Linked DNA regions of Homo sapiens: region 2 is linked to region 1. The links come from fine-mapping of genetic effects on gene expression. A gene starts in region 1. The other region holds a variant in brackets. All regions are shown on one strand. Distances are from middle to middle.

Region 1 (5,379 bases):
TACAGGCATACACTACCCTGCCCAGCTAATTTTTTTTTTTTTTCTAATTTTTTGTGGAGAAGGGGTCTCGTTATGTTGCCCAGGCTGATCTCAAACTCTTGGCCTCAAGTGATCCTTCCACCTTCTCCTCCCAAATTGCTGGGATTATAGACATAAGCTAGCATCACTGGCCCAAATAATATTTAATGGTTACATCTTTATGAGACAAGAGAGTATGCTGATGTTCAGGAAAAAAAATATATTCTTTACCAAATGAACACTCTAATTAACCAAATGTTTTCATTGCTGTGTACTTTATTTGGCATAGATGACTAAGCTAAACCAATAAATCTGTGACTGTTTTCAAAACTGTATTTCAAATAGATTTTTTGGGTGTACCATTATGTCTAGTGTTTAGTTTTATTTGTTTAATTTACCACAATACCAAAATGTTTCTTAAAATGTTAGACCACACCCACCCACCTCCACACTTCACCTAGCAGAAAATCCAGGTCATCTGTAGAAGTTGAAAAGCAACACAAAAAAGCTCATGCACCTTCATCTAATCCTCCAACCCTGGGCAAGGTAAAAGCTCTTTCCAGAGCATTGCATCCCAGTTTTTGGAACCGTACCTGCTCCCAACCCCAGGTGTGACCCTGTAGCAGGTAGGCAAAATTACTGTGACAATCTCACAATCCATCAGCTACAGAGCAAAGGATCCTCTGAGGAGAAGTTAGGATTGCTGAGAAAGCACAGGCTGCTGAGCATTCCTCTCCTGCCAGACATAAACCTGATGCAAGACAGAATTATGAGAAACCAGATTCAGCTCACCCATCCTCCTTCTCAGTCATCTTCCAGGCACAAAAGAAAGACTGAATACCAATCAAAAGATAATATAAATAAACCTTTTAAATAAAGTTTACTAATTGAAAGGACTAATAGATGGAGTGATGCATTCTTCAAAATCTATTGTCATGCTTTTGTGGACTTTATTGCTTATCAGCATTTTTCCCCTCAAGAAAAAAAAACAGAACAGCAACATTTGTTCAGAAAAAAAACAAACCATGTTTCTTCCTTTCTTATTACTTTTATTGTTTGAGGTTTCTTTTAGACTATAATGTGGCATTGTGATTTTAAGATGGGAAAAAAAAATCTCTTGTCTTTCAAACATAGGAATGTGATTGTATGCTATTGTTGCCAACAATGAGCTAAAGAGGTTAATGGATCACATATCTGGCAAACAGCCATCTTTCCTCCTGCTCAATATATTACACAGTATACATTTTATTGTTGCTGCTGAGCATATGATTTTGTCTGAGTAGTTGGTAAATAAGTTTAGACTTAACTGGTCTCTTTCTAAAACTCAACAGCTTTGTCATTCAGGCTATATCCTGAGATTTAAAAAGTGCAGTTTCGGTTCTTAGCTCATGACCTTTTGAGGTGATGGTAAGAGTGGTGGGAGGAAGGAGGTGGGGCGGGCTGTTGAATGAGAATCTAGAAATATTGTGCCTTGTAAATTGCATCCGACCTTTCATTTTCAGATTGCCTAAATTAACAGAGTGAAATTACCATAATAAAAAGGAATGGGTACTGGAGAAAGTACAGCAATTCTTTCTAGTGTTGTTTCCCAGATTCCTTCCAAAATACCTCTAATTAAATGGACCAACTCTCTCCACTGACCTCAGGTTGACACAAATTTGCATTCTGCGACTGTCATTTGAAAACAGACAAGCCGTCATAAGCAATAATGCTGTGATTTCTTGCCTAAAGGACTTTTCTGTGTACTGCATTTGTACTATGAAATGTAAGCAAGAGACTTAATGCCTCTACAGATAAAAAGGGAGGAAAGATTTTCATTTTTAGGGAACCCCAGAGGGAAAAAGTTTATCAATGAGAAATACAATGTTCTGGATAATTTTGGTTGGGTAGGAATGTATGTTGAGGGAGGGGACTAGAGTTGGGAGAGAGGAAGCAACACATCAGTCTCCTTGGAGCAGTAGAGTCCTTTCAGTCCGGTAAAGAGCACAGTAAGTAGCAGGTAGAATCAGCTCCTGGCCTGTTGTTTTGCTGGGGGCAAAGGGTTGGAGGAACACAGACTAAATTGGGAAGGCTAGTGTGCCTCTCGGCTTTTGGACTTGGGACCTGAAAGAAGGCTGAGTCCTGAGCTCCGCTTCCCAGCTAGGCGGTGATCGCCCCCTGTGACTCCGGATGCACACAGCAGCCCCAAGCACGCCGCGGCCGCCGCCCGACCCTTCACCGCCTCCGGCTCTCCCGCCTGGCACTCTGGAGCCACACACACCAGCTTCCTGGACACCTGTGTGCCCCAAGCTCTGGGTCTAGGCATCCCCCTCACCCCAGAGAGACCGGTCTCAGCGCCTCAGCAATTGGGTCCCTCCGACCTCTGTGTCCCCGAGTTCTGCCACCCTGGTCACCTCCGCAGGTTCCCCAAGCTGCGACCTCAGTCCAACTGGGAGCCCTGCGCGCCCACCCGGCAGCCCCACTGCGCTGCTCGCCCGCGGTTCCAGCGCCTGGGTGGGACGCGCAGTGGCTCAGCTGCGGGACCTCCGCCTCCGGGTAAATCCTCCTCCTCCCCTTTCTCCGCCTAAGGCCCTGCCCTCCCCCTGCAGCAAGCCGCTCCGGTGCGTGCGCCCGTCTCTCCGCCGAAGACACCTGCGCTTCCTTCCCCACCCTCCTCCTCCTCCCTTTCGCTGCGGTTTCTCCGCTGCCTTTGGGAGCTCGGGAGCGGCAGCTGGAGGAGGAGCACGGGGAGGAGGGGAAGGCGAGGAGGAGTAGGGGCGGGGTGGGTGGGGAGAGAGCCGGGAGGGTGTGGACTGGCAGCCACTCTGCAGCTGGTCGCCAGGGACCCGGTCCCTCCTGCGCGCCCAAGTGATGGAGGGGAAGAGATTCGCTTAGACACACACACGCGCACACAGCTGGGCACGTCTCCGGGAGGCAGCTGCCGGCTCGGGCGCTCTGGGGGCCGGGCGGCGGCCGTGACAGCGCCAGCCGCGGGGAGCGGGGCGCCCGCACAGCTTGGCACCGGAGGCTCGAGGACGCAGGAAGGGAAGATCCCAGTCACACTGAGTGTTGCTCTTTTGGGCGGATTGGGAGGGAGCGGGCTGCCCGAGGAGCTGTCACCGAGGACGCCCGAAGTCTCGCCCTCTGCGCGCAGGGTCCGGGGCTGCGCCGGTGCCCTCGTGGGGCAAGGAGGATGCGCACCTCCCCCCGCAGAGCGGCTGCGGTCTCCGGCACTGCGCGGACTCCGGCTCCTGCGGCCGCCCGTGCCGTGCCCGCGCCACGGGAGCGCGCCCTGCCGCACCTGGTTCCAGCCTCTCGGGGAAGTGCAGGAAACGCGCCCTAAACTCCACTACTTCTCGCCCGCCTGCCCCCCCGCCCGGCTCCCCGCCTCAGACCTCGCCGCCGCCGCCGCCGCCGCCGCCGCCTGCGTGTGGGGCCCGCTCGCGTCTTACTCACACGCGCCACGCACAGCCCTGTTGGTTTGCTCTCATTCACGCCGACTCGCTCTCCGCCGAGCCTAGCCCGGGCATCCGAAACTACTGGACCAACTGCCGTCCGGACCGCAGCAGCGGCCGGGTGACCCCCACGCGACCCGCCGCCGACCCCCGCGCCCTGAGGCTCCCGCCCGCGCCGCCACCGCCGGGGACCACGGTGAGCAAGGCGCGCTGCCCGCCTCGCGCGGGGGAGGGGCTTTGAGACCTCTAGATTTGGGGGGAAATGAGAAGGGGCAAATCGCCAAAGGGAAGCATCCGGGTGATGCCAGCAAAAAAGCACTTTGTGGGGTTCGGTTCTCCTGGGCGCTGCCTGGGGAAGACTTTTGAGAGGTTTGCTTAGGACCAGAGGTTAAACTAGTGCGAGATGAGAAACGGCGGGGGCAATTCCTGGGGTAAAATTAGACAGAAGGTGTCAGTCAGCCTGCCTGTCTGTTTCTCTCTCAGTCTCTCCCAGAGCGCTGGGTAGCGCTCTCTTTGAGGGAGAAAGGGAACACGCGTTTACTGCGCTCGCCAGAGTTTAGGGGTTCGCGTTCGGTCACTTCTGGGGTGGCTGTGGAGCTGTTTGGAGCGCGAGGGCAGCTTTGGGACAGTGGGGGCCTGCGAGGCCCCAGCAGAGGACAGGCAGAGGGCAGGCAAAGAACAGGCAAAGGCTAAGTTAACATGTGGGTGGGGTTTTCTCTTCCCAGCTGGCCCCCCCCACACCCCTCACAGCCCCACTTTATGCATCTCTTCCCACCCAACACACACGCGCGCGCGCGCGCGGGATGGATGCAGTCGAAGGGTGGTCATACTGTTACTACAAACAAGTCTGAGAGGTCGCTGTCGCTACTCACTGGAGCGCTGAGACTCCTGCTCCTGTTACTTGGGCGACCACCTTGGTTTAGGGCAACCTGCAAGGAGCGTCCAGCTTAAGGTGGATGTCTTTACCTGGAGGTTCCAAGCGCCCAGCAAACAAACAACTCCGGAGTCACTTCACCTTGGTGGGTTTCCTCTACTCTTCCGCTTCCCTACTTCAGTGCTTCAGGGCACCCACCCAAGGGAGCTGATGCTCACATTCGTGGTCTACCCTGTCTTCACCCGGTGGGACTCACTCTCTCTCTCTCTCTCTCTCTCTCTCTCTCTCTCTCTCCCCCTCTCTCCCTATTCCCTCTCCCTCTCCCTCTCCCTCTCCCTCTCCCTCCCTCCCTCCCCTCTCTCCCCCTCTCCTCTCTGTCTCCGAATACGAATACCAGTTTCTTCTTAGAAAACACTGGGGAGAGATTTAATATTTGCAAAGTGCTTTATGTCATATTACTTCGTGGATACATTTAATAGCACTGTAACTCTTCTCTGATTTATGTAAACTTGGTCTGATAAATAGCATGCAGGGTCGGGTTGGGTGGGGGCGAAAGTGGGTGGGTGGGCCTTCTTTCTGTGCTAATGCTCCTTTCTAAACTGATTTGCTAGAAGTAATAAACAGCTGGTGCTTCTCAAAGGTTTTACTTAGTAGTTTCTACATATTTCAGAGCTTTAGACAAATTACACATTATAATTTATTTCAAATATATTAAGGTCTTTTCAAGAAAAAGTTGAAGATAATAAAAGGGGATTACAAATATGAATATCAAAAATGATTATTTTTTAAAAAAGGTTTTATTGCTATCAATTATGTTGCAATAGATTTTTGTTGTTGTCATTGTTACCTTGGGGTTTCCTCCTAGTGAAGTTTTTAAAGAAATGAAAACAATACTACTTACCTTCCTCTCTCTGTTTGGTCATTGCTCAAAGTAACTGCATGAGCATCAGGGCAGGCTTCTTAACTTCAGGAATATGAAGTTATTCACCAGTGAACTGATGGAGACACAAGAAGATATTACAAGACACATAGCAATGGGAAGGAAACTGTTGC
Region 2 (5,379 bases), 230 kb after region 1:
AGGTAACATGTGCCATTTCTGCTCATGTTTTATTGGTCAGAATAGTCCTATTCTACTCCTGTCTTCTAAAGGGGATGGAGAAATACTCTCCTACCACCTGTCAGAAAGAAGAACTGTAAACATCTTGTGAAGAGATTAATGACTGAGACATATACCTTTCTATCAATTCATTTTGGTCATGAGGCCTGTCCCACCTGTGGGAGCTCATATTTACTTCCATGTTTTAAACTTTCAAATTTACTTTATTTGTTCACTATATATTCTTGAGTAGAGAAATGAGAATAGGTAGTCAAGATAATGGTAAATAATGGTAATAACCCCATATAATTGCTTTCTTATATATAGATTGTTTATAATGCAGTTAACTCCCATCCTTAAGAAATACATAAAGTGTTTGAGAATCACTGGTCTCCAAGAAAGAACATCAGACTCTTAAAGACAAAACACAGATTTGCCCTTGTGTCTCTTCTTTGTATTACCTGCCTGACTATATATAGATCAGTGGCTCCTTTCTATATGCCATTTTTTTTCCGCTGAAAATTATACCTAGCTGTGACTTATGTGGAAGTGGCTAAGCTGGCAATAATTGTATAGATGTCCATACATGCCCCCTCAGAATCTCAATGGTACCTCAAGGTCATCTGCCTTGAGGACTGGTAAATCTGGTCATAATGTGGATAATTTACAACTGGAGAAATAAAGGAGTTCTCCTTGCTATGCAAAGAAGGCCTCTTTGAATGTTGGTGTCGGCATTAATTCCCTTTATGATGTGAGGCAAATCACTTAATTGCTAGGTGTCTTCTTTTTCTGATCCAAGGATAATATTAACATACCTCTCTAGGTCCTTGTGAAGCATAATATATAGAATTGATTGCAAAGGCATTTTCAGAATATGAGACACTATAGAGACATTTGTTGCACTCTGAATTCCCTACGTTGCCCACAGTGCCACTCCTAGAGGTAGATGTCTGGATAGGGAGTGAATATTTGAGGGAAGGGGTAGTTATACAGGGCAGAGATGTCTATTTCTGAATTCCCAATTAGCCTAAGTCAGTAATCTACGTTGTGGATTATATCTGGCCTGCTTGATGCACTGATCTTCCTCCTTTAGGCATTTTTCTGGTTTCTTTTTACTTGGCAGAGGAGATAAAATTCAAATTGGTCTTTTTTGCCTGGTATAGTATCTCTAGGAAGAAGTTAGATTGGATGGCCAATTTATAAACAATACTGACAGTTTGGGTTTAGGGTTAGAGTAATAGCATACTTGTTTAGCATTTAACTCTTTTGAAGTGCTTTCACATCATGGATCATTTTACCTGAGACTTGCCATAACTTTGTAAGCTGGGTATTACCCTAATTTACAGAAGAGAAGACTGAGGTTCAAAAGATTCCATATGTTGCCCAATGTCACCACACTAAGAAATGACAAATTCAAACCCATATTTTCTGATTTTGCGTGGAGAAATATTTTGTTCCATTATTCCAGGCTACCTCTGTGTTTTCTAGCAGAGATAAGTGATGCCCAGATATAAACCATGATCACATGGAGCCAAGACAGGGTTGAATGAAAAATTAGCCCAAAGGAACTTATTATTTGCAGTCAAATTCAAGATATTTTGCCTAGAAAGTAAAAGGAATGAGCTATTTCTTCAACATTAATTTTAGTATTCTAATGAATTAAAATTAATTCAGTTAATTAATTAGTTATTTTCCACCAGAGGATTCAGCCGGAATGGGGAGGGGGAGGAATTTTGAATTCCTGGTAAAAATGATGACTTGATTTCTTGATGATGATATTAGCCAATGACTCAACTTCCATCTCCCCTTCCCCTATAATAATAGGAATAAGGAGAGTTGATTTTCATGCATTCATTATTCAGTTACTACCCTTTGCCAAGAAGCGTTAGTCTAATGGATGAAGGGAGGGGGAGAACAAATAAGTAAACAGATTATTATAATACAGTAAGTGCTAAAATGTAACAAAGGATGGCACCAAACCCAAAAGGAAGGGCAGCAATTAAGGTGAAGTAAGCCATTACTTAAACTCATTAAGTAAGAGTTAGGTCAGTGGTGGGGGAAAATGGAGATCTAGCTGTTAGGGCAGAAGTTCCATTAGTTCTGGATGGCAAGAGGATGGGGAAGGAGGTGGGAAGTGGAAGGCGAAGGGCAAAGTAAAAGGTAAGCAAGGGTTAAACCTTGAAAGATATCTATGGCCTGCTAAGAAATTTAACTTTATTCTTAATGCTCTTGGAGATACTGCTGAAACTTATAAAAATAGAAAGGTCTGTGGGGTAAATGGATTTGGAGACCTAGTAAGTTTGTCAGCTGACTCAAAAACACTTCAGGCTGTTAGTAAAATCCAAGCAAGAAAAGACCAGGTAAAGAGAGGTTATGGTCTTTGCTGCACATCATTTAGCCCATAACCTAGGCAAACTAGAACTGGGGTCTCCTAATTCTTAGGCTGGCATTTCTTTCTCCCATCCCACATTGCCTTCCCATCTCTTTGGCATTTTTTTCCTTTAGAGAATTGTATTCCTTTTGGAATATATGCTGAGATGCTAGAATATCTTTAAAGGTAATCTCATTCTCCATTAAAAACAGATATTTATCATGGTGATGTTAACATTTAGACAGTTCTTACCAGCAGTCTCATTCGTGTGATCTCATTTGGTTTTCTTCTGAGAACGCCAAAGTCTTTTTACTCCTGTGGGTAAAAATAAAGATACCCTAAATTTCTCTGGTGGAATACTTTAAACTTCAAGCAGTGCCTTTTCTTTATATTGTAGTTTGGAGAATAGAGCAAAAAAAATTGTTTTATTTTATGCTTTAGTATCAAAAAATAACTGCTCATTGTTAATGAGAATTATAGGGCCAGTTCAACTGCAGTGATAAGTTCAGGGCATAAAAG[A/T]TCATATATCAACATGACCTCACTAACCTTCTCTGTACTAAATGACAAACTGCTAGGAATAGCCTTTGGATCAGGCCACAGAGACACTAAAATACTTACCCTTCACCACAGAACTGTATTGAACTCTATCTGTCATTTACCACCGTCAATCATAGAAGCCTGCTTGGATGCTAAACAGGATTTCAAACAAAAAATAAAAAGAAAGAGAACTTCCTTCAAATAGTTCAACTTCTGATTTTATTTAGTGTCTTTCTGGACATTTGAAATAATGTGGGGAAGGATCACAGCAAGTTAGCCATGTTTTTTGCATTTGTGGAGGGATTGTGTATAAGGGAAAGAGCAAGATTTTCGGGCCAGTGGGATTCAATCTGGCATCTATGCTTCTTTCCCCTTCCATAAGAGGTTAACACTATGTCATTGTTATAATGATAGGACAGATATGTGACATTATTCTTTTCTTTATAGCAGGACTAGACCAAGCTAACAGAGACTTGGTTAGCTTTTTAAGAGAAAGAGACTCATGTAATTTAGCCAAAAGGTTCTGAGACTGCTAACTTCATGCTAGACATACTTGCTGCAAAAACTTATTCCCCAAAATTCAACTAAATGCCATTGTTTCTTGTTTGTAAATGTGTCTATGAGAGACTTTTATAGTTTTCTTAGAAAATCAGAATTAAAAAAAATTATCTTCAGGAAAATGAACATACCCTTCAACCACCATCAACCACTCTAAAATTCATGTGTTACTTTCATGCCTTTTTCATGTGAGACAGAAATATATGGGATGGCATAAAAAATAAAATATATCCTCATATAGGTTTTATTATTATCCTCATAATTTGCCAACTGGGAATTACTGAGATTCCACATTGTACATAGCATTTATGCACTTGATTTCGGGACCAGGACTCTGGTCGCTGCAGAAAAAATACTGAACCATATGAACACTGTCCTTGCATTTATAAAGCTTATGAAGATAATATCAAAGGTGATTTGCTGAGTGAATTAATGAAATCACATAACCTTTGTGTTCACATAACCTTTTAACACAAAAAGAGTGCATTTTCCTATGACTGAGTCTAAATTACAGCAAAGCAACTGATCAATACGATTTTTTTAAAAAGTAACTTGCAGTTTCAACTGCAGCATTTTCTTTAAATATTTTTGTCCTCTAAGTAATATATATTGCTTCATTTAGATATTATACTATGATTAATTTAGTCAAGAAAGGAAAAATCAAAACATAAATATTGTGCCAATCATAAAAACATATGTGTAATAATAACAAAATAGACCTAATATCTGCACATAATCAGATTTTAAAGAGCAGTTTTGTAAGTAGGAAAAATGTGTGACTCTATATTGCCAATGACTGAGGCCTCCCAGCATTCCTGTTTTTGCAAATCATGCTGTAAGAGATCACATAATTATATGATCCTATTGGATCTTCAGTAGCTAAGACTCTGTTGAAAAGTTCTGAGAGTTCTTATGTCATTACCATCAAGAAAACTTTAGTAACATCCTATTCTGTAAATCAGAAATGGGAGGGATTATTCCTCCACTTACTGCTAACACTTAAAAGTAACAGCACAATGGATAAAGTAGAAGGTGAGTGCATTGCTAGGCATGGAGGAAAGGAAGGCCTCAGTGAGGCAAGAAATATTTGTGACTCCATAGAAAATACATCAGTGAGTCAAACTAGTCATAGAGAACCTGCTACATGTTTGGCACTATAGTGGTTTAAAGAACTATAAATTGTTTCCACCACCCAGGTTATTCCATTTTAGTCTCAGAAACCAAAGCAATGCATGTGTAACAAATGCAGAGAAAGCCCACAACTTGTCATTGTAATGGCAGAACAAAAATTAAAATATAAGCACTCTCAGTTAGGTATAAACTATTCATTTGAGGTAATTATCACTGTCACTAATCCTGTCACAGAATCAAAGTAGAAACAAAGAAAGATGGGTAGGTACTGCAGCTGGCCAGCCTGATTTCTAATGATAACAATGTAATGATACACAGGCATCCTACTTTCATACTACTTCCAAGGACAAGTAAATGATCACATAAAAAAAAAAGACTTTGACAGTTATCTTGCCCAAATCTTTCTTCAACCAAGTTAACTCTGGAGTGTTAACTTATAGACTAGCGTAAGAGTAGTCATTAAAAAAATTATTGAAACACTATATGCCAGGCATTCTGGTGGGGGCAGGCAGATAATAAATGGATGGTGTTTTAGCTAATGGATCAGTGAGAGTTTGGATACTGATATACGCTATGAGTAATTTAATAGATCAACTTTAGGCTTGCTTGGCTAGCATTAATGAAGTCTTCTTAGAAGAGGTGACACTCGAATTGAAACATCAATGGAAAGAAGGCAGCCATCCATTGAAGGAGAGGAAGATCATTCCAAGCAGAAGGAATAGCAAATACAACTCTCCTGGGTGGAAACAAGCCTGTTTAATGTG

Direction of the effects. Alleles are on the strand shown, and positions count from the first base shown. SD is a standard deviation of normalised expression in the study named.
As copies of A replace T in region 2, the expression in skeletal muscle of the gene that starts at base 2,820 in region 1 goes up (large effect, 0.95 SD a copy in FUSION).

What was found.
Region 2: its variant is fine-mapped to the expression of HS3ST5 in skeletal muscle (FUSION, PIP 0.92).

What each region holds. Positions count from the first base shown.
Region 1 is chr6:114,340,464-114,345,842 of GRCh38, reverse strand. HS3ST5 (heparan sulfate-glucosamine 3-sulfotransferase 5) reads left to right here and starts at 2,820. Exons shown (of 5, transcript NM_153612.4): 1 at 2,820-3,648. HDAC2-AS2 (HDAC2 and HS3ST5 antisense RNA 2) reads right to left here. Exons shown (of 10, transcript NR_125845.1): 10 at 5,114-5,321. LOC107986638 (a long non-coding RNA gene) reads right to left here and starts at 3,518. Exons shown (of 8, transcript XR_002956366.2): 1 at 3,454-3,518.
Region 2 is chr6:114,113,443-114,118,821 of GRCh38, reverse strand. All of the region lies in intron 3 of HS3ST5 (heparan sulfate-glucosamine 3-sulfotransferase 5), which reads left to right. It overlaps HDAC2-AS2 (HDAC2 and HS3ST5 antisense RNA 2), which reads right to left. Exons shown (of 10, transcript NR_125845.1): 6 at 2,642-2,704. Among named protein-coding and RNA genes, the nearest start is that of HDAC2, 140 kb to the right of the region's middle. The variant A/T (reference allele first, on the strand shown) is at 2,909.